3 linked regions of the Homo sapiens genome follow. The protein of the gene in region 3 purifies or fractionates together with the protein of the main gene of each other region. This does not show direct contact. Each region holds a gene or a part of one and is shown on either strand. Other genes may lie near its edges.

Region 1 (7,444 bases), on a different chromosome or scaffold from region 3:
ATGGGGGACAGAGCGAGACTTCACGTCAAAAAAAAAAAAAAAAAGTGACCGGGCGCAGTGGCTCACACCTGTAATCCCAGCACTTTGGAAGGCTGAGGCGGGTGGATCACTTGAGGTCAGGAGTTCGAGACCAACCTAGCCAACATGGTGAAACCCCATCTCTACTAAAAATATAAAAAAATTAGCTGGGCGCAGTGGCGGGAGCCTGTAATCCCAGCTACTTGGGAAGCTGAGGCAGGAGAATCACTTGAACCTGAACCCAGGAGGCAGAAGTTGCAGTGAGCCGAGATCATGCCAGTGCACTCCAGCCTGGGAGACAGAGTGAGACTCTCTCTCAAAAATAAAAAACAAAAAATAAAAAAATAAAAATAAAAATACAAAAACTAGCCAGGTGTGGTGGCACGCGCCAGTAGTACCAGCTACTCAGGAGGCTGAGATAGGAGAATCACTTGAACCTGGGAGGCAGAGGCTGCAGTGAGCCGAGATCATGCCACTGCACTCCAGCCTGTGTGAGACAGAGCGAGATATTCCGTCTCAAAAAAAAAAAGACTTTTATTTTTCAATCTTATGTGCAATCTTGTATTACCTCAACTTCTGACAACTGCATACATAAAAACAGAAAAATGCTTATAGTCCAATAAATCTGAGTCATCGGAAGAAGGCAGAATTTTCCTGACTTCAACCAGTTTAATTTATATCAGACTGGAAACGAGGATGGACAGATGTGATAAAGCTAGTAATGTTAAGGGTAGTCTGGTTCTGCACTGTTCAATATGGTACACACTAATCACTTGTGACTATTTACATTTACATTGATTAAAATTAAATAAAAATTTAAAAACAGTTCCTCACTGGCACTGGCCACATTTCAAGTGCTCAGTGGCCACAGCAGTCTAGTGGCTACCCACAAGGTGAGAAAAGACATAACCATCAAGGCAGAAAGTTCTACTGGACAGCACTTACACAATATGTGGGACCACTGTGAAATTCTTTCCTATTGGAAATGTTTCACAATAAGACGTTGAGAAGACTTAGATCAAGGGACTTCAGTTTCCCACAGACACAGTCCAGGTAATGAGATTCTCTTTCTAGTTGTTCAGCACTCATTTAATCTGTGAAACTTTTTGTTGTTGAGACAGGCTCTTGCTATGTTAACCAGGCTTATCATCCAACACCCAACTCTTGGTCTCAGGCAATCCTCTGGCTTTGGATTCCCAGTAGCTGGGATTACAGGCGTGAGCCACTGCACCCAGCGTAATATGTGAATTTCCGAGTTTAGATCTGGACTTTCTGAAAGTGAAATGAAGGCCCAAGAAGGGAGAACTGAAATAGTAAAATCATCACTAAGAGCCAGCCGACAATGCAGTGTATTTTAAGCCTGCAGTCAAAATGTATTTTTCGCAGATTATATAGACGTAAACATCTCATTGACACATAGGTGTCAATTATGAATCTTTAAAACTTGAAAAATAGGAAAATAATGTCCGTATTTCCAGAACTTTTTAGAACTATTTCACTTTTATTTGGTCCCTTGGTGCCTGTCCATCACATTCCTATTGTTTAACCAGATGCAACTGTGGTCCACATATAATTTCAGATATAGGTGGTTCTTATGGCAGGCAATGTCGTGGCTTCTTGGAATGCCCTGCAGAACTGAGACATGCTCATCATTTTTGTACCCACGTGGGGTAATGTCATTATCCTAAAACGTTAACACTTGGTTTTTTTGTTTTTGTTTGTTTGTTTTGTTTTGAGCTCCCTCACCCAGGCTGGAATGCAGTGGCACGATCTCGGCTCACTGCAACCTCTGCCTCCCGGGTTCAAGCAATTCTCCTGTCTCCGCCTCCCGAGTAGCTGGGACTACAGGCACCTGCAACCACGCCCAGCTAATTTTTCTATTTTTAGTAGAGACGGGGTTTCACCTTGTTGGTCAAAGTGACACTTACCGTGCCCTTCGCCTTTGTATTTAGAGTGTTCATATTCAAGTCTTGACTAGGAAGAGGTGTACCGACATAGTTTCTTGTCATTCTCAGAACACTTGCTCTTTAAAATATTCAAACTTTTCCCTACCATTCTACTGAAAAAAGGCTGATACTGGCCTAGGTAGGCACGACTCTACGGCAGGAATGGTGAGCATCAGCCACGTTTTAATGTTAGGATGCCTCGATTCTCCCACCTCAGCTGGCATCAGAAGCACCTGCAGGACTCTCCAACCCGGACTGCTGGGCCCCGCCCCCAGAGGCCGGGCTGAGTCCCCAGGGGATGCGGACACCGCCGATCGCGCCCCGCCGTGAGAACTTCTCCTCCAACATCCGACAAAAACATTACGTCGCGCGAGGGCCAGGTCTCTCCCTCTGCCCACCTGAGCCCGGCGGAGCCCCGCAGCCTCGGAACGGCGGACCCTCGCGATCGCAGGCCGAGCAGGCACAAGTGGCCTGGAAATGCGCGAAGTGGGCAACTTCCACACTTCCCGAGCACACAAACATTCCTTGCCCAAGCGCTGGCTCTACCCCGGGAAGGCGCCATTACGAAGGCCTGATCACCGGCAACCGCGCGCTTCGACGGCAAAGCCCCGTCAGGTCGCGCGCCGGCTTGGGCCGCCGGAGAGTCGGTGTGGAGTGGCTCGAGGCTCACTCACAGCGACGCAGCCCCAGTGGGTCCCTTTCCTCTTACCTCGGCCTCCCACGCCGCCCCCATTTCCTGGGGTGCTTCTCCCCACACCTCCTTCGGGGGCCCGGACCCCCGCCCCTGCCCGCCGGTGGGATGTGGGAAGCGTCACTGTGGACAGCCCGGGCCTCCCGGAGAGTCGGAGTCGTAAAGCGGCCAGCCAGGCCCGCCCTGCCCTACCTGTGGGGCTCCGGACAGCGGCGGCGGCTCGGGGGCGCCCGTCGTCAGCCAGCCGGAGGCGGGTAGCGCCACGAACAGCAGGAGCCGGAGGGCGAGCGACCCCGGTGGAGCGCCCTCCATCTTGGACAACCCGGGCAGAGGGCAGCCGCGGCCGGGAGGTGAGGGCGGAGCCGGCCCGCGGGCGGGACGGAGCTTCGGCGGGAGGGACGGGGAGGGGCGGGGAGAGACGGGGAGGGGCGGGACGGGCCCTCCCCTCCCCGGGCGGCCGCGGAGAGGCGCGGGGACGCTCCGAGATCCGGCTCGCCAGGGAAAGGCGTTTGCGCACGCGCAGCGCCGCGCGGCGTCGAGGGGCGGAGTGAAATCTTGGAAGGTACGGCCCCTCATTAGACCCGCCCTCAGGATTGGACAGGACTCCAACTGGAGCGATGTAAATGTCCTCGTAACCATTATTTTTAAAATTAGTATTTACACACATGCATGTGTCTGTGTGTGCACATGTACATGTACCTATACGATGAAAACAACGGTAATATTTCAGAAAACTGTTATACATTAAAAATGAAACATCGCATTTACAGGGGAAGTTTTTATTAAGTGGGTAATTCCCCACCCTTGGCTGCACGTGGGACTCTCCCGGGCAGCTTTAAAAAGTACTGGGGTCTTCCTGAACACCCCACTTTCCAGCCTGGGCTGCGGCTCGGGCCCTGGTGGTTTTTTAATTTTCTCGGGTGATTCATTGTGGGGCCAAGGTTGAGGATGCGCCATGCTTACTGTTCAGCATTCTGCCGACCCCTGGAGGCGGCGCGGGGACAGCGCTCAGCTGGAAGGAAGCCAGCGCACCTGGGCTGTCAGTGCCTTTTTGGTCAGTATCGTAACTCTAAAGTGAAAGTGTTAGACTTTTCTTCCACCTTGCAGATTTAAAAAAAAAAAAAAGTTACGGAACCCTGTAAAGCAGAGTAGCAAGAAATTCAAGCATTTTAGATTAACAGGATTGCATGTTGATTGAGAAAAACTTGGAAACTTGGCCATTCAGGCAGAATAAGAGTAATATTTAGTCTTCCTTTGAAATAAAACTTTTGACATGAAATAAAACTTTTGACATGAAAAAGGAAACAAGAATCTATTTCTCTCTTTGAGCCCCCTTTACTCCTTTGAACACCCTCCTCCCACAGGCCTGCTGACCGCCACCGCCCCCTCCCCCGGCCCCGCCCCAGAATAAATTATAAACGTTTTGGCTAAAGACTCCTTTCAACTAACTCCGGGCTTACTCTGAGATTCCCCACGCCATTGTTAAGCTACAAGTGATTTCACAGCGAAGCCCCACACACTTCTGGGTTCCATCTGCAAACTTGGCCTTTTCCTTTTTTTCCTACTGCTGGAATTAAAAATGAATTTGGAGATGGGCGTGGTCATTTGTGCCTGTACTCCCAGCTATGCAGCAAACGCAGGCAGGAGGATCGCCTGAGTCTATTAAAAAAAAAAAAAAAAAAAGGAATCTAGAAGCCGGGTGCAGTGGCTCACGCCTGTAATCCCAACACTTTAGGAGGCCGAGGCGGGTGGATCACTTGAGGTCAGGAGTTCGAGAATAGCCTGGCCAACATGGTGAAACCCCATCTCTACTAAAAATACAAAAATTATCCAGGCATACTGGCACGCACCTGTAATTCCAGCTACTAGGGAGGCTGAGGCAGGAGAATCGCTTGAACCCAGGAGGCGAAGGTTGCAGTGAGCCAAGATCGCGCCATTGCACTCCAGCCTGCGCGGTGGAGCGAGACTCCGTCTCCAAAAAAAAAAAAAAGAATCTGGAAGTCAGAAAACATGACATGTGGATCTGTATAATTTGAATTAGTAATATAAGGTTACAAAGTACGTCTATATGAAAAGATAATAGGTAAAGTTGAGGCTCTCTGTTTTCTTACAAAGCCTTTCCCATGGTCTAACTGTCCATTATTCTTTATTGTTTATCTGTCTCGTCAGATAGATGTGAGCTCCAGGAAGAGGGTGGCCAAACCTTAAAGCAAACAGCTTGCTAGAGTAAGCCCTCAGTGGGGGTTTGTTGGACAAATAATGTCTAAGTGGTTGACAGTATTATTTAATAATCAAAAATTTTACTGTTTTGTATGAAATGGTTCTCTTTAGGCCATTGTTTTGCTACATGCACCCATGAGCGCTACGGAATTTCATTTAAAAAACCCCATCATTTGGGGAAAAAGCACCATACCACAACTCTAATGAGTTACAACAAAACTTTAAACAAGCTTTGTGGCTGAGTTCCACTTGTCCATTGGAAAACTCAGCTTGGTTTACTGAGCCTTCACATTAATCTGAGAAACAAAAGACAGAATTAACTTGGCAGTTGCTTACACGACAAATAAATCTGTCAATGTTAATACGGTGAGTACTTTGATGTTCCTTTGAGTCAGCTCATGTCAACTTGATATCCTCTATCATAAAAAGAGTTCAAGTTGCCTGACAGCAACCCACTGCGGTTCTGTGCACATTAGATGCTTTCTCTTCTTTGAAGGTAATCTTTCATATAGGAGAAGATATTCTAAAATATTTCTAATACTACAGAAAACAAAGTATATATTAAAATGTCTTTATTCTTTCACCAGATAATACCTTTTGATTCCAAACCTTGATATATTTCCTTTTTCAGTAGCCGATTTCATTGTCATTTTCATCATTCCCACAATCAAAATTTGAGTCCATCTTTTTCTGCAATTTAAAGCAGGCTTGATGCCAAAAGGAAATCTGGGACCTGATTTGTATCTGTTTCCAGTTTCTGGGAGTGAGTGAGTCACTGCACTTCTATTACAACACAGTCTACTCCAGTATTTTCCAGAGTTAGTCATCTACATATTTTTGAACTTTTTGAAAGACCCCTAGAAGATGACAAGAGGGAGAGCAAGAAACAAAGATATTATATTTTATTTTTTTGAGACAGGGTCTTGCTTTGACACCCAGGCTGGAGTGCCATGGCAAGATAGATCATGGCTCACTGCAGCCTTGACCTCCTGAGCTGAAGCCATCTTCCTACCTCAGACTCCTGAGTAGCTGGGACTGTAGGCACATGCCCCCATGCCCTGCTAATTTTTTTTTTTAAGTGAAGACGAGGGCTTGCTAGCTTGCCCAGGTTGGTCTTGAATTCCTGAGCTGAAGCAATCCTCCTGCCTCGGCCTTCCAAAATGTTGGGATTACAGGCATGAGCCACTTTTTTTTTTTTTTTTTTTTTTTGAGACAAGAGTTTCATTCTTGTCACCAAGGCTAGGGTGCAATGGCACAATCTCAGCTCACGCAACCTCCTCCTCCCAGGTTCAAGCGATTCTCCTGCCTCAACCTCCCAAGTAGCTGGGATAACAGGTGCCCACCACCACGCCCAGCTAATTTTTGTATTTTTAATAGAGACGGAGTTTCACCACGTTGGCCAGGCTGGTCTCAAACTCCTGAACTCAGGTGATCCACCTGCCTCGGCCTCCCAAAGTGCTGGGATTACAGTCATGAGCCACTGTGCCTGGCCTAAAATATTTTAAAACTGCTTTTGCTGTAACTTTCTTGTCCATATATTTATGAATGAATTTAATTAGCTCATAATGATGGGTGATGCCTCTCATATGAAGAACAACTCATAGAAATATTATCATTGTAGTAGCCAGCATTTATTATGCTAATTGTGTTAAGTGCTTTATGTATATTATTTAAACCTTATAACAGCCTAATGACATGATTACAATTTATTATCCCATTTTTATATACAAAACAGAAATTTATAGAAATTAAGTGTTTTTCTCTGAGTTACAGAACAGTAAATGATGAAGCTGTGGTTTTAAACTCTGGCATTCTAAGCCAACACAGTATAATGAAACAAAAGGCATTTAGTTAATTTATATACATTTATAGAGATGATTATAAATTATTCTACTCATTAGCTTTCTAAAAATATGAGCTGGGTTGCACTTTGGGAGGTGGAGGCAGGCGGATCACCTGAGGTCGGGAGTTCGAGGCCAGCCGGGAGTTCAAGAAACCCCGTCTCTATTAACAACACAAAAATTAGCTGGGCGTGGTGGCGCATGCCTGTAATCCCAGGTACTCAGGAGGCTGGGGCGGGAGAATTGCTTGAACCCGGGAGGCAGAGGTTGCGGTGAGCCGAGATCGCGCCATTGCACTCCAGCCTGGGCAACAAGAGTGAAACTTCGTCTTAAAAAAAAAAAAAAAAAATATATATATATATATATATATATATATATATATATATATATATATATATATATAAGCTGTGTTGGGAGAAATGGAGAAACAGTAAAGTGTAAGAGAGCTATGCCTTCTCCACCATCACAGGAGCTAGAGGGGCTCCAGGGCCAAGATGCAGACCCTGCTCTCTGCTCCCTCAGCTAACTAGTTTCAACAACCTGAAAATCTGCAGAGACGTTTGTACTCAAGGATGCTAAAAATCATACTATAATTTAATATTTGGTACCCTAATAAAAATCCTGAAGATAAAAGATTAAAGGGCCGGGCGCGGTGGCTCACCCCTGTAATCCCAGAACTTTGGGAGGCTGAGGCAGGCGGATCACGAGGTCAGGAGGTCGAGACCATG
Region 2 (7,579 bases), on a different chromosome or scaffold from region 3:
GTACTTCTGTCTCTATTCTAGTATTTCAACCCAGCAGGCTGAGACCATTTACTATAAACAAAAACAGCTCTATACACCTCAGCGAATAGCACTATTCAATTCTTTATGAATTCATAAAGACAACCCAACAAGAAAGAATAACTTATATCCAATATTCTCCAAGGGAACAAGGAAGACAGTAAGATTTAGAAATTGCTTGTGGGTTATAATGGCTCTTTTTTTTTAAGTTTCAGTAATAAACGGTGTGAAGAGTCAGCTACCGAGAAAATGTGCTTATGTAAATAAGTACCAATGCAGATGAGGTCAAATAAATGAGATACTATATCTTGCATAAATAATCAAAGTTCTCACTCTCCAAGGATATCTTAGAAATTCCCAGGTGTATGTTGGAAAATCCTAGTATGAATTAAAAAGCAACAAATTGATATTATTTGATAAACAGGTGCATGATTTTAAAAAGGATTTGAGGATTGAAGATGGGATTTTTAGCAATATTTAAATGGTAATGAAGCTGATAGTTGTTCATAAGGTGCAATAAAATGTTTTAATTTAAATTATTGGGAAATGTAAACTGTCAAAATCTTTAAACGAAAAGTAGTTTTTATCCAAAAAAATTGTCATAAGCATCTTTATTTACTGCATTGGTTTATTTATTCTAAGACGCGTACCAAGCTTAAATACAACAAGCATAGTCCTCTGGAAATCTTAGATTTAAAAAGAGTTTGAACCTGTATAGTAGTATTACCTGGAAAAAGTCAGAAGTATAGTTTCTGTTCAGTTATGCCCAACCTCCTAATAGAGTATCAAGCCTTTACTAAATATCGGGGCACTATGCTTTATTGTAGTTTTTAAAGACTTGTATAATACTAAGTCACACAACACTAGATGTCAACTTAACCTTGTAGGTGGCAGGCAAATCATACAATACTAGAGTGTTTTTCTCTGGCATTATCTAGAAGAGTTGCTGAACACAGACACATTCCTAAAGCAAAACCTCAAACCACCAAGAGACAGTTTCTATAGGAGAAAACTAAGCTGGCTAAGATTTAATTCAAGTAACACAAAGTTCTGGTCTCCTTTACCATATAATATTAAGATGCATGACTCTAATTTTAAAATCTCCTGGGGACAAAGTATGGTTACTCTTAACACTATTAAAATATTGGTTAAAGATAACCATTGGGTACTGGGCTTAATAACTGAGTGATGAAATAATATGTAAAACAAACCCCTGTGACATGTGTTTACCTATGTAACAACCCTTCACATGTACCCCAAAACCTAAAATAAAAGTTTTTAAAAAAGAAAAGAAAAAAGGGCACTTTCTATCCTTCCTTCAAATGGTGGTGATTTTTTTCTGGGGATATGTCAGAAGCACGCCAATTTTGAGTGAATATAGACGTTTTTGAACATGAAATTATCAGAAATGATAACAATTTGGCATCTAGCCAAACTCCCTAACATTCACGTCATTGATACTGAAAAACTGGTAGTACAAGGTGACAGCCTGAGGGGACTGAAGATTTTTGGAGTATTTGGAGTAGTGTGGTTTTTTTCTAATTTTTACCAATAGGATCCCCAGAAATAAAAGACTCTATCGTCACTGCTAACACTGGCTCATAATAAAGGTGATTCTCCAGAGCACGCCTGGTTTGATACCGCCACCCACTCCTTCCCTTGGCGACATTTTCCTGCTAAGAACGCCTAGTTAGCGCAATCCAGCCATTCGCGTTAGTTCTCAGAACTCTCTCAGAAGTTCTCTACCTTCTCTCCTCTCCCCGCCTAGATGCTGAAAGGTGATGGGAACTCGCGGTACAGGTACAGAGGCTATTCCTTTCCTAAGGAAGTGCTGCACAATGGCAGGTTTACCGTACTCAATTTTATAAACCCTCAATTAAACCAGAAAGCTTGTATATAGAGATTGGGTACCCCGCCCACCTCCTCAGATTGTCCTTTTGCCCCGACGCACTGCATCTACTTGCACTCTCCGATGCGGTTTGCCTCCTTCAAATCCAAAACACACATACCAGGCTCCCTCGCCGCTCCTCCAGTCCATGGAAGGCGCCCTTCTTTTTGCCAGCAGCGCGTCCTTCTCTCCCCGCCCGCAGGCGCTCACCTCTTCTCTAATCCCGGGGGCCCGCACAGGCTTCTCTAATGCAAGGGCACCCCGTACCATTCCCAAATCGGCGCGGGGACCCGTGAAACCCTGCCACCACTGTACACTGTCCATTGTCGAGAGTCGCGCGGGCACGCGGAAACGGCGGGCCCCGAAAAGTCTCAGCGAGCTTGTACAGCCCCAAGACATTCCCCACCCCCAACACATCCCGCTCTTGTTCCTCCTTAGGGGGAAGACGGAGTAAAGGGGAGTTGAAGAGGTCCCGAAGCTCCTCCTGGTCCCCCACCTCCATCCCTGCCCTGGCAGCTGGCTCTGGCCTCTGGGCTCCGCGGTGCCCATCCCTTCAGGGGTCAAGTACAAGGTCCTCGGCCGAATCGCCTCCCCGTTATACCCTCCCTCTGCCTTGAGCGCACAAACGCGAGAGAACCCTCGAACGGATGCCATATGGCAGAAACAGGATCGCGGGCGCTATGAGGGGCCAGCCTAAAAAGATCTCCTTCACACCCCCTCAACCCCTAGCCTTTCTCCCTACCCCGCCAACCCCCACTAACCACTTCTAACTTCCTCAGCCCAACCCTGTCTGTGCTTTCTAATTCCCACCCCCCCGCCCCTGGACAGCAGCCATTCGCCCGGCACTCACCTCAGGGAGCAAACAACGCCCCTCTCCTCCACCCAGACCGCCCCCCCTTCCGCCCTCTGGAACGGCGTGGTCCCTCCGCTCACCTCGTCTCTTGGCTGCCCCGCGCGAGTTTGAGTGTGTGTCTGCCGCGTAATTGTATCCGGGACAGAAGGGACCTGTGTTTGTGCGCTGAATCAGGTGTCGCCGCCTTCGGTGGTTCGGGGGCGTAAGGGAGGCTTCGGAGTTAGCGTGTTGGCTAAGGAGGGCTCTCTGGGTTCACAGTTGATAGCAATGCTTTAACCGTGTCCTCCCTCGGGTCCTCAGCGCGCCTGCTCGTCCGCAGCTCCCAGCGGGCGGCCAGGCCCCCCGCCCCCCAGCCGCGCCCCGCCCTGCGTGCGGCGAGCAGAGTCGGAGCGCGCCGCTGCCCTTCCGCACTTGGCTCAGCGGGGCACGACACGGGCCGCCACGCGCTCAGCCTAGCATCACTCGCCTCTGACTGCGAGCGCCTCCAGCTCCCCGGGCTGGGGCATGGATGCAGACGCGCCTTCGTACCACGCGCTCGCAGGCTGGGCAAGGGGCAGCGCGTTGGGATCCGGCCAGTCGTCCGCTGAGCGAGGTTGGCTTGCAGGCTGGGACTTTTCGCGAGCCCTCTGGGCGCTCGAGTTGCGAACTCTGACAACGGCACGTGGCCCCGCCCACTCTTCCCTCTTTGCGAGGCGTGTCCCGCGCCCTTTCTGCCACCACCCACGTAGTCCCTGTGCCCGCCTTTTATCATCAAGGCGGCTCAGTGAGCTCTGCGTGTTGATGTCGCGCCTTTTCTCATCTTCCTGCCTTTCCTGCCTCACTTCTGCTGAATCCATTCAAAAGTTATACTTGGGCAAGTGGGTGGAGGAGTTAGGAAAATTAAAAGAGGGATGCTTAGGTGAGCAGGTACCTGCACTGCCGCCAACCCAGGCTTCAATTCTGGCTCTCTTGTAGCGGAAAGCCTTAAAAAACGCGAGTTTGGGGATCCTGAAAAAAAGTAAATAGGGTTGCTGGGCTGAATAACATCCCTCCTCTCAGGCTCCTGCTGAAAGGGCCATTCATGATTTGCCTGGTTGAGCCTGTGGCGACTTTATTCTGACGAATCTGCCTTTGCCAGCAGCATAACCTTGCCAAGTTGGCGTCTTGACCAGCAAGCAACTGTGCCCAAGGAAGCCTCTCTGTGGTGCCTCAGACCTGAGAGGCCGAGTGCCTTTGAGCGCCTGAGGTAGATTGTGAGTTTCATGAAAACCGAGAAAGTCTAAGTGTGCATGTGCGTAAGATATTTTATATATATATATCTCATATATATATGAGATATGTCTATATAACGTGGACTGAATTGTTTATTGTTTATGTTTCGTGTCGAGCATAAATTCCAGAAGCTAAGATGCTTCCATAGCACACAAACGTTATGCGTTTAAACGTTGGAAATCAAAAATGCCATGTCAGGTCATTCTGTCCTTGTTCCAAAGTGAGATTCAGAAATAGGTTGGGATTTTCTGCCCTTAGATAAGAAAACGGAAATTATATTTTACTGTATATGTTATCAGTTAATGATAAATTAAAAAACTAATATACACTGCTGTTATTGTAAAATCCATATGCTCAAGAATGTTCATGGATGGAGAGATCTTCAAATGCCATTTCAAAAAAGAAAATGCACTTTTCTTCTTTGCAGATTAGGAATTTGAACATATTCCCTGTGCAAAATGCAGGGAATATTTTCACAGCCTTTGTACCTGATTACCATACTCTCTATTTATTTCTTATTTAAATTGCACTAGAAAACCTAAAGTAAATGAAATGTAACATAATAAAGAAAAGAGAATTTAGACATTTACTTTAAAAGCTTTATTTCTCAAAGGTCAAGCTTCAGTTTCAAGCTACTGTTTGATGATGCATATGTAAATTCTTGGTAAAAACTTGATCATTAGCAATTAAAACAACTTTTTTCTTTTATTATATAAAAATGTTTAAAATTGTTTCACCACATCCTTGTCCTTAAAATGGTGTAAACTGACCATTGTGTAAGGTTTTTGTCAGATTTTTGGATAGAAAAGGAGTATATATTATGTGTAGATATGTCCATGTTTATTGTTTCTCTAATCTATCTATTTTTGTCCACATTAAATACTGATTATTGAATTTCTCACAGCTCTACACAGTAAGGGTGTTCCATAATGTAAAACAAGTTTATTCAATCATCATATGAATAGTTGAAATACACTTTTGGAGTTTGAAATGATAAAAGCAAGAAATCAGTGAGGTTCATTTCACCGCCCCACCCCACTTTTCCTTTTTTTAATGCTCCCACCTTTAATTGTTAACATTATTGGCTAAGTGGTTGAATAAATGAATAATGAAAACATTTGCTACTTCTCTTTAAGGAAGGATGCATATTTTCCATATTTAATGTATCCTTCAAGCTCCCATTCAGATTAAACAAGATTCTCCCTATCATCTTTAGTTTATAGAATGTTGAATGGGACAGCATAGCCTGCAGTGAGAAAGTTTCAGCCAATGTGGAGTATGGTATTAAAATTCCCTCATTATTTCTGTGGACTATATATATCAGTATTCTCAATTGTTATTTTTTTCAGAAATACTTGTTATAATTATTCACCCCATATAACTTTATTGGAAAATATAAACAACCATATGTGAGATATTATATAAGTTTTGTAATCATTCACCATTAACTCTGGGATCAGACTTCCTAGAATTTGAAGAAGAAATTAATGAAATCAAACGTAACTTAATAGTAGTAGTAATAGAAATTTTAAAATCCTCTTAAAGTTTCTGCAAAGTGTGATCCCTGCCCCCTTACACTCAAGTTAAAGGAGAATGTTAACAGCCTGTCCTGTCTCTGTGGACAGTGGACCTTATCTATACTCCCCAACTCCAAATTACTCAAGTTTATTACAGGCCAGCAAGCTCCTGCACAGCTGCAGTCACAAGACCAATAAGTTTAGGTTGCAAGACATGTTTTTCTCAAGATGTAAGAAATGTTGTAATGCTTGATTAACTGCCTTTGTTTCTCGCTTCTGTAACTTGCTTCCCACCTCATGTAGTTCCTGCCTTAAAATGTTTAAAAGTAGGAAAAGCCCTTAGTTTGGGGCTCATACTTTCTGGACATATGTCCGGCTGGGCCGGTGATCACCTTAATAGACTCTCCTGAACCTTTTTCAGTCTCTCCAGTCTTTGATTGTCTTGTAACATTTCTGGGGGCTCATCCGGGATTGGAGAGGGAACATTTTCTGTCTCCTTTGCCTGTGGGCTACAGCCCCAGGACATGGGAGATCTGGGGTCCTTGGCACCACCAGGAGAGTTTCAGCCCAGAAGGAGAACTGCCCTCCCGCGTTCTGGGGCCTTCCCCCGACAGCACAAATGGAACCAGTGGAAGGGGTTGCAGGATGGTCACGGGAGCAGCGCACAGCCATCTGAACCACGGTAAAGTTTGGGCCCTAAGGCAAGACCCGTCCCATAAGGACGGAAGGGGAGCCTGATCATCTCCCAGGGCATGATGACTGATCTGACCCGAGGGGGTTGGGACAATGGGAGAGGCCCATTGATTCAGACAAAACTCACGCCCTAACCGACACCAGATGCAGGTGGGGCTCGCACGTCAGTCAGAAAGGAAAACAGTTTCAGGGACGGGGGAGGTGTGTGAGACAGTCTCAGGAGAGACCAATGCGGGGTGTGACATGGGGAGGCACAGATCTCTTAGCATGCACTGTGTGCTCTGAGGCGAGTGTGGGAAAAACCAGACCTAGAACACTGCATACAGCCCATAGGACCAGCTGTATGGCTGCAGCTAGCTGTAACAGGAATTAAGGTACTCTCCTGGCTAAGCAGCATCCACCATGGCTGCAGCTAGCTGTAACAGGAATGAAGGCACTCTCCTGGCTAAGCAGCATCCGAACCTCCCATAATAGGACCTGGTCTGGTGGATCCAAGAGTGAAAGTGACAGTGAAAGCATGCCGTGAGGGAAGAAATGGGAGGAAAAGCATCAAAGCCTACTCCACTGGAGTGCATGCTGAAAAACTTTTACAAAAGGTTTAAATGGTGATTAAATGGTTAAGCTAACTCCACAGAAACTGAGAACCTTTTGTGAGATAAACCGGCTGTCTTTTAATGTAGGGTGGCTGGCCGAGGGGACAATACACAAGGAGATAATTGGCCAAGTGTTTCAGGTGGTCACTGGGCTTGGAGAATAGCCCAGGCACCCAGATCAGTTCCCGTATACAGACTCCCAGCTAAGTGTAATTCAGACCCGCCCTAAGTGGCTGCAGACCTGCTTTGAGACCTACCATAAGACTTTAATGGCTTGGACAAAACCAGGAACAATAGAAAGAGACTGCAAGTCATCAGAAAAAGAAAAAGAGTCACAGGAAAAGCAGAAAAAACCTGTCCTACAGGCCCCATCTGAAGAGTTAGAAACTCTACCCCCTATGCACCAATTTATCCATCCTTGGCAAGGCTTAGACAGGAGGCTGCCCTGGCTGCCTCTGGAGGCTCAGACTCAGAAGAAAGCATCCCTCAGGCAACACCACGCAGACAGAAGTCAGAGCCCTTACCTGAAAACCCAAGGGAGGAATTCCAGGGGGATGAGGTTGGCTATCTTAGGTCAGGTCATGCCCAAGCAATGCAGATGTCCCTCCGATAAACATGGGGACAAATTTATTTGAATGCACAGAATGAAGTCCAAGGGGGAGAATGGCTCTTCATTTATCAGCCCTTCTCTACTACTGATCTCTGAAATAGGAGACAACATACTCCCTCCTATACAGAAAAGCCTCAGGCTCTTATAGATTTAATG
Region 3 (7,021 bases):
TTGGGAGGTTGAGGCAGGTGGTTCATTTGAGGTCAGGAGTTTGAGACTAGCCTGGCCAACATGGCGAAAAACCGTCTCTGCTAAAAAAAATACAAAAATTAGCTGGACGTGGTGACGAGTGCCTGCAATCCCAGCTACTTGGGAGGCCGAGGCATGAGAATCACTTGAACCCAGGAGGCGGAGGTTGCAGTGAGCCCAGATCACACCACTGCACTCCAGCCTGGGTGACAGGGGAGACCCCATTTCAAAAACAAAACAAAACAAAACAAAACAAACAAACAAAAACCTATAAACCAAATTTCTCCCAAAGTTAGCTTGGCCTATATCCAGGAATGACCAAGGACATCTTGGCAGTCAGAAACAAGATGGAGTCAACTATGTCAGATTTCTGTTACTGTTATAATTTTGCAAAGGTGGTTTCACTGTCAGATCCTGGCCTCTGGGTCCAATGTGGAATGAATTCCTTGGATCTTTGAAGCACATTGTCCATGAATATTCACTTATTTTGTGGAAAAGCAGAGTAGAAAAGTGATGAATTAACACCAAAAGCAACACATTACAGGCGGCTTGTGACCTGTTGATTTTTAAGGTCAAGGAGGGGTGGTGGGGAATCCTGGGAGTCAAAATTACACTTAAATAATACTGAATTTTCCCATTATGTCTCCTACCTTGACACACATCATTCTCATGGATTCCCATTTGATGATTTCTAGAATATTAATGAAACTTTATCATCTTGGTGAGAAAAGCATTCTAATAGCTTTATTCTGACATACGGAGGTATGGAGAGCTTGAAGGAGTCAGAGAGGTCAGTTGTTTTCCTTATTAGTAATCTGGCATATTATTATTGTAAAAGTATAAGACGATTAATTTGGAAATGTAGATAGGATTATGTAACTCATTAGTTCTTAATAGAGGGAGGTCGTGATACCTGTATTATTAGGGAACATAACTGAATTCTTTTCCTTTTCCCGTAGGTGCCCAGCTAAGACCTGAATGCCATCACCCTCCCCAGGGCTCTGCAGTTTTCTCGTGGTGAACCCTTGATGGATTTGTTGTTGCTTGAGAAATGGCGATGATCGAATTGGGGTTTGGAAGACAGAATTTTCATCCATTAAAGAGGAAGAGTTCATTGCTGTTGAAACTCATAGCTGTTGTCTTTGCTGTGCTTCTATTTTGTGAATTTTTAATCTATTACTTAGCGATCTTTCAGTGTAATTGGCCTGAAGTGAAAACCACAGCCTCTGATGGTGAACAGACCACACGTGAGCCTGTGCTCAAAGCCATGTTTTTGGCTGACACCCATTTGCTTGGGGAATTCCTAGGCCACTGGCTGGACAAATTACGAAGGTAAGAGGTAAAATCAGGAATCTTTCTAAAATTCTGTAGGCAAAACGGTATAGCCCTCTCCTCATAGGCAAGGCTTATGGCTTTAGGTTACTCTTAGTTATTTTCCTCTCAAAGGAGGACATTTAGGGACATTTGACTTTTCCTTGAATTTACCATTTACTGAGGATATATACAGGGCCCCATAATTTGGGAGTCAGATCTGGGCCACATCGCTTTGTGACTTTGGACAAGTTGTTAGGGCCCCTCTGAGCCCCTGCCTCCTTGTTTGTAACTGGATTAAGACAAGAAACATCACAAGATGTGCCACGCAATGACAACAAGATGCTACACAATGCCTGGTGCCTGGGACTGGTCCCCTGGGCAGGGGAGGACACAGATGTGGGTTGGTGGTCCCATCTCACCTTCATTGCTGTGTAACTTTGAGCCTATTGGGTTTCAGCCTCCTCTAGGCAGCAGAGGAGCAGAGCAGATTTGTGGCTGTCACCCTGGGGAAGGATCAGGTCCTATCTTTCCAACTCACACCTGCCCCTGCATGGTCCATTGTTTTTTTCACCAGGAAGCTTTTTAAACAAATTATTTTTAGGCCAGGTGCACTGGCTCACGCCTGTAATCCCAGCACTTTGGGAGGCCAAGGCAGGTGGATCACCTGAGGTCAGGAGTTCAAGACCAGCCTGGCCAACATGGTGCAACTCCATCTCTACTAAAAATAGAAAAATTAGCTGAGCATGATGGCGGGCGCCTGTAATCTCAGCTACTCCGGAGGCAGAGGCAGGAGAATCGCTTAAACCTGGGAGGCAGAGGTTGCAGTGAGCTGAGATTGCACCACTGCACTCCAGCCTGGGCAACAGAGCAAGATTCCATCTCAAAAAAAAAAAAAAAAAAAAAAAAGAATAAAGAATAAGAATAATGAAAGAGCAGCTATACCTTTTTACTAAGAGTTTTAACCAAAGGAGGCATGAGCTCAAGAAGGGCCGGTGGGGGGCCTGCAGTGTCTTGGTCTTACAAATTGATCCTGATTGATGTCTGGTCTCGCCAAGTAGCCTTCTGTACCTTCTTCCTGCTGCTGTTTCTAGATTTTTACTTCCCATGGTGAATAACATTAAATCAAGAGAGACTGAGAAGCTGGGTGCAGTGCTTCACGCCTGTAATCCCAGCACTTTAGGAGGTGGAGGTGAAGAACTGCTTGAGGCCAGGAATTTGAGACCAGCCTGGGCAACGTGGCAAGACCTCATTTCTACAAAAAAACAATAAACAAAAACCAAAAATAGCTAATTTTTGCTCTTTATGCCCGCTTGTAGTCCTAGTGACTCAGCAGGCTGAGGCAGGAGGATCGCTTGAGCTACTTTGAGCACCAGAGTTTGAGCCTCCAGTGAGCTATGACCATGGCACTGCAGTCCAGCCTGGGCGACAGAGCAAGAGCCTGTCTCTAAAAAAAAAAAAGTAAAATAAAATAAGAAAAACGGAGAAATGTATTTTGAGAGAGATCTTGGGTAAAAAGCCTTTCAGGGGTGATGTGTACCATTCAGTTCACTTGGGATCTAAAAATCTTCCTCTGACCAGAAATTACATTGACTGATTAAAATGGGGTCTAGCTCTGTTGCCCAGGCTGGAGGGCAGTAGTAGGATCATAGCTCACTGCAGTCTCCCAAGTAGCTAGGACAACAGGCTTGTGCCACTACGCCCAGCTAATTTTTACTTTTTTGTAGAGATGGAGTTTTGCTGTGTTGCCCATGCTGGTTTTGAACTCCTGGCCTCAAGTGATCCTCCCTCCTTGGCCTCCCAAAGCATTGAAATTACAGGTGTGAGTCACTGCACCCAGCCTACTTTCCCCTATTTATATATCCCAGGACATAGCATTTCCCTTTTGTAGAGGAGGAGCAGCCAGGAAAATGCCTTAAAAAGGAGGAAAGGTTTGGATTCCTTAGAAAAATGACATAGGCTGGATTTGGTTAGGTTGAAGACGGGGAGGGCTGAGCAAACACTGACATTTTTGAGCACCTGCTGTGTGCCTGTGCCATGCTTTACAAATGCTGTCTTATTTAACCCTGTAACTATCCTGTGCAAGTAGGGTTTAAAATCCCCATTTACCGGCCGGCCGGGTGTGGTGGCTCATGCCTGTAATCCCAGCACTTTTGGGAGGCTGAGGCGGGTGGATCACCAGAGGTCAGGAGTTCGAGACCAGCCTGACCAACATGGAGAAACCCCGTCTCTACTAAATATACAAAATTAGCTGGGTGTGGTGGCACATGCCTGTAATCCCAGCTACTTGGGAGGCTGAGGCGGAAGAATCATTTGAAACGGGGAGGCAGAGGTCGCATTGAGCCGAGATCACACCATTGTACTCCAGCCTGGGCAACAAGAGCGAAACTGCATCTCAAAAAATAAATAAATAAAATAAAATAAAATCGCCATTTACCAATGAAGACACTGGGCATCAGAATAGGCAATTTTTTCAAAGCCTCACAGCTTTTCAATGGATTGAGCTGGGATGTTAAGCCATCATCTGTCAGATTGCAGATCCCAGGCTGTTTTTTTTTTTTTTTTTTTTTTTTGAGATGGAGTCTCGCTCTGTCACCCAGGCTGGAGTGAGTGCAGTGTCATGATCTCAGCTTACTGCAACCTCCGCCTCCTGGGTTCAAGCAATTCTCCTGCCTCAGCCTCCCAAGTAGCTGGTACCACAGGCGCATGCCACCATGCATGGCTGGTTTTTTGTATTTTTAGTAGAGACAGGGTTTCATGATATTGGCCAGGCTGCTCTTGAACTCCTAACTTTATGATCTGCCCACCTCGGCCTCCCAAAGTGCTGGGATTACAGGCATGAGCCACCATACCCAGCCTCCAGGCTCTTTTCATTTGCTTGTCTTACCTCTGGGAGGATTACTCGCATGTCTGAAATCTCCAGGATTTCCTGTTTTGATATTGGTTCCTGTTTTGATATTAGCTAGCCTATTTCTCTTGTCATCTCCCCTCCAACTTGGAAGCAAAGAAGGAAGTTGAAGTCCCTTTAATAAGAAGCTAAAATTAAGCTAGATACAATAATCTCCTCTGTGTGGTACAAAATCAGTCTACATTGAGCATCTTTGGAAGCTGCATTAGGCTCTCTCAGATCCCAGTTGCTGTCTTGACCGAGTGATGGCTGCAGGGTGCAGAGTGGGGCCTGTTCCTGCACACCACAGTGTCTGGGGTGTGTGGAAGGGATGGCCGGACTCTTCTCTGATACTTAATTCCCCACCTTTAATCAGATATGGACTCTTTGGCCCTTCAAGCCAGGGATGGGAATGCAAGAGTGGGGCTCTGGAAGAAGGAGAGTGGAACCATTTAGTTTGCTGTTTAAATGGTGCATAATACAGAAGTAGCCTCCACCTAGGAAAGAGACTGATGCCTTACTTTTTCCTATTGGCATCAAGGGAATGGCAGATGGAGAGAGCGTTCCAGACAGCTCTGTGGTTGCTGCAGCCGGAAGTCGTCTTCATCCTGGGGGATATCTTTGATGAAGGGAAGTGGAGCACCCCTGAGGTAGGACTCTGTGTTCCAGGTGCCCTCATCCTGCTGTGAGGTCCAGCACAAGTATCCCAGAGAATCCACGAATCAGTGTCAGCTTGAGCTGGAGATTTTATGGAAGTTGTACTTACTACTGATATTAAAAATGCGTAGGCTATTTGGAAGATGATTAGAATTCATAGGCTATCTAAGATTATTAGAACAACTCAATCTTGAGTTAGGTTGGCTAATTGTAAACATTTGTCTATGTAGGAAATATGTCGATTAGCCAGATATCATTTAGTTGGAATACACTGTTTTGTGAACCTCTTGGGAAAGGGAGAAACGGGCAAGATAGATGTTATTTCAGTTGTCACCGAAATTGCAAAATACATATTGAAATGTACATTTAATTTCACACTCTTATTGAACCATGACATTATGAGAATCGTGCTGCAAAAGAGACTTGCTATTCTCCTCTGATTTTCTTTTTTCTGAATGAGAGATGCAGAAGGAGCGCTGGGGACTTGATGTGAGGATCCTCTGCTTTCAGAGGGGGCTGAGACCCCTGCCTGGGTATTGGGGTAATATAAGACTTTCCACAAACCAAAGAGAAAAGCTGTTCTCACCTTAGTTGTCACAGTGTTTTGCTTATTATATCCTTGGAACAAAACGAATGAAGACATGAGCTGTTCTTGCTGCTTAAAAATGTTCAGTCACTAATGGTTTTTGGAAAATCTTCAATTTGGGGTATAGTATAAAAAACTTCATCACATGCCCGTAGTACCAGCACTTTGGAAGGCCAAGGCAGGAGGATTTTTTTTTTTTTTTTGAGATGGAGTTTCACTCGTTGCCCAGGCTGGAGTGCAATGGCGCAATCTCAGCTCACTGCAACCTCTGCCTCCCAGGTTCAAGCGATTGTCCTGCCTCAGCCTCCTGTGTGCTAGGATTACAGGCATTTCCTGTGTCACCACGCCCGGCTAATTTTGTATTTTTAGTAGGGACAGGGTTTCTCCATGTTGGTCAGGCTGGTCTCAAACTCCTGACCTCAGGTGATCTGCCCACCTCGGCCTCCCAATGTGCTGGGATTACGGGCATGAGCCACCGTGCCTGCCCTTTCTTTTTCTTTTTCTTTTTTTTTTTTTTTTCTTTTTGGTGCTATGGGGGATGGAGTCTCACTCTGTCACCCAGGCTGCAGTGCAGTGGTGTGATTTTGGCTCACTGCAACCTCCGCCTTCTGGGTTCAAGCGATTCTCCCTCCTCAACCTCTCGAGTAGCTGAGATTACAGGCACACACCACCATGCCCTGATAATTTTTTGTATTTTAGTAGAGATGGGGTTTCACTGTGTTGCCCAGGCTGGTCTCGAACTCCTGAGCTCAGGCAATCTGCCCACCTTGGCCTCCCAAAGTGCTGGGATTATAGGCGTGAGCCGCTGCGCCAGACCTAGTCCAAGGCAGGAGGATCGTTTGAGCCCAGGAATTCAAAACCAGCCTGGGCAACTTAGTGCTGTTTCTACAAAAAATACAAAAATCAGCCAGGCGTGATGGTGCACGCCGCTACTCAGGAGGCTGAAGTGGGAGGATCGCTTGAGCCTGGGAGGTCAAGGCCACAGTCAGCTGTGCACCACTGCATTCCATCCTGGGTGACAGAGTGAGACGCTGTCTCAAAAAATCAAGATAAAAATCAAGGAAGACAAACAACCCAAACAAAAACAAAACAAAACAAAAAAAACCCCACAACAAAAATCCAAAAAACCTTACTGGCATTTCCTAGGACAATTCAATAGCTGCACAAGAGAAGTCTTGTTTCAGAGTTGATAGGAACCAGTTTACAGAGTTGCAATGTTTGTTATTATCTAGGCTATAATTAAATGTGAGATAGTGGAAATGTTATATGTAAAAACAACTAGTTACAAAATGAGGTTGGATAGATATGTTGCTTTTCCAAATTAAGGGCAACATTTTATGTTTTTCTATGTCTGTTATTCTGATTTTATGTTACTCTAACTTTATATTTTTTTATTTTTTTCAGCTGGTGTCTTGCTCTGTCACCAAGTCTGGAGTGCAGTGGCGTGATCTCAGCTTACTACAACCTCTGCCTCCCTGGTTCAAGTGATTCTCCTGCCTCAGCCTCCTCGAGTAGTTGGGATTACAGGCACCCGCCACCACACCCAGCTAATTTTTGTATTT

The links. The genes of interacting proteins can lie anywhere in the genome.
Region 1: the proteins of MPPE1 (region 3) and GINM1 purify together in Homo sapiens (affinity purification with mass spectrometry; 2 studies listed by BioGRID and IntAct, with this or other methods). This does not show direct contact.
Region 2: the proteins of MPPE1 (region 3) and UGT8 purify together in Homo sapiens (affinity purification with mass spectrometry; 2 studies listed by BioGRID and IntAct, with this or other methods). This does not show direct contact.

The regions. Positions count from the first base shown.
Region 1 is NC_000006.12:149,561,938-149,569,381, reverse strand, and holds the start of GINM1 (glycoprotein integral membrane protein 1 precursor), read right to left. Parts: upstream 3,008-7,444; 5' UTR 2,968-3,007; coding exon 2,848-2,967; intron 1-2,847.
Region 2 is NC_000004.12:114,594,235-114,601,813, reverse strand, and holds the start of UGT8 (2-hydroxyacylsphingosine 1-beta-galactosyltransferase precursor), read right to left. Parts: upstream 3,008-7,579; 5' UTR 2,840-3,007; exon of another isoform or gene 1,939-2,839; intron 1-1,938. UniProt on the Homo sapiens protein: Catalyzes the transfer of galactose to ceramide, a key enzymatic step in the biosynthesis of galactocerebrosides, which are abundant sphingolipids of the myelin membrane of the central nervous system and peripheral nervous system.
Region 3 is NC_000018.10:11,891,313-11,898,333, reverse strand, and holds part of MPPE1 (metallophosphoesterase 1), read left to right. Parts: intron 1-713; exon of another isoform or gene 714-808; intron 809-977; 5' UTR 978-1,069; coding exon 1,070-1,350; intron 1,351-3,056; exon of another isoform or gene 3,057-3,149; intron 3,150-4,757; coding exon 4,758-4,866; intron 4,867-7,021.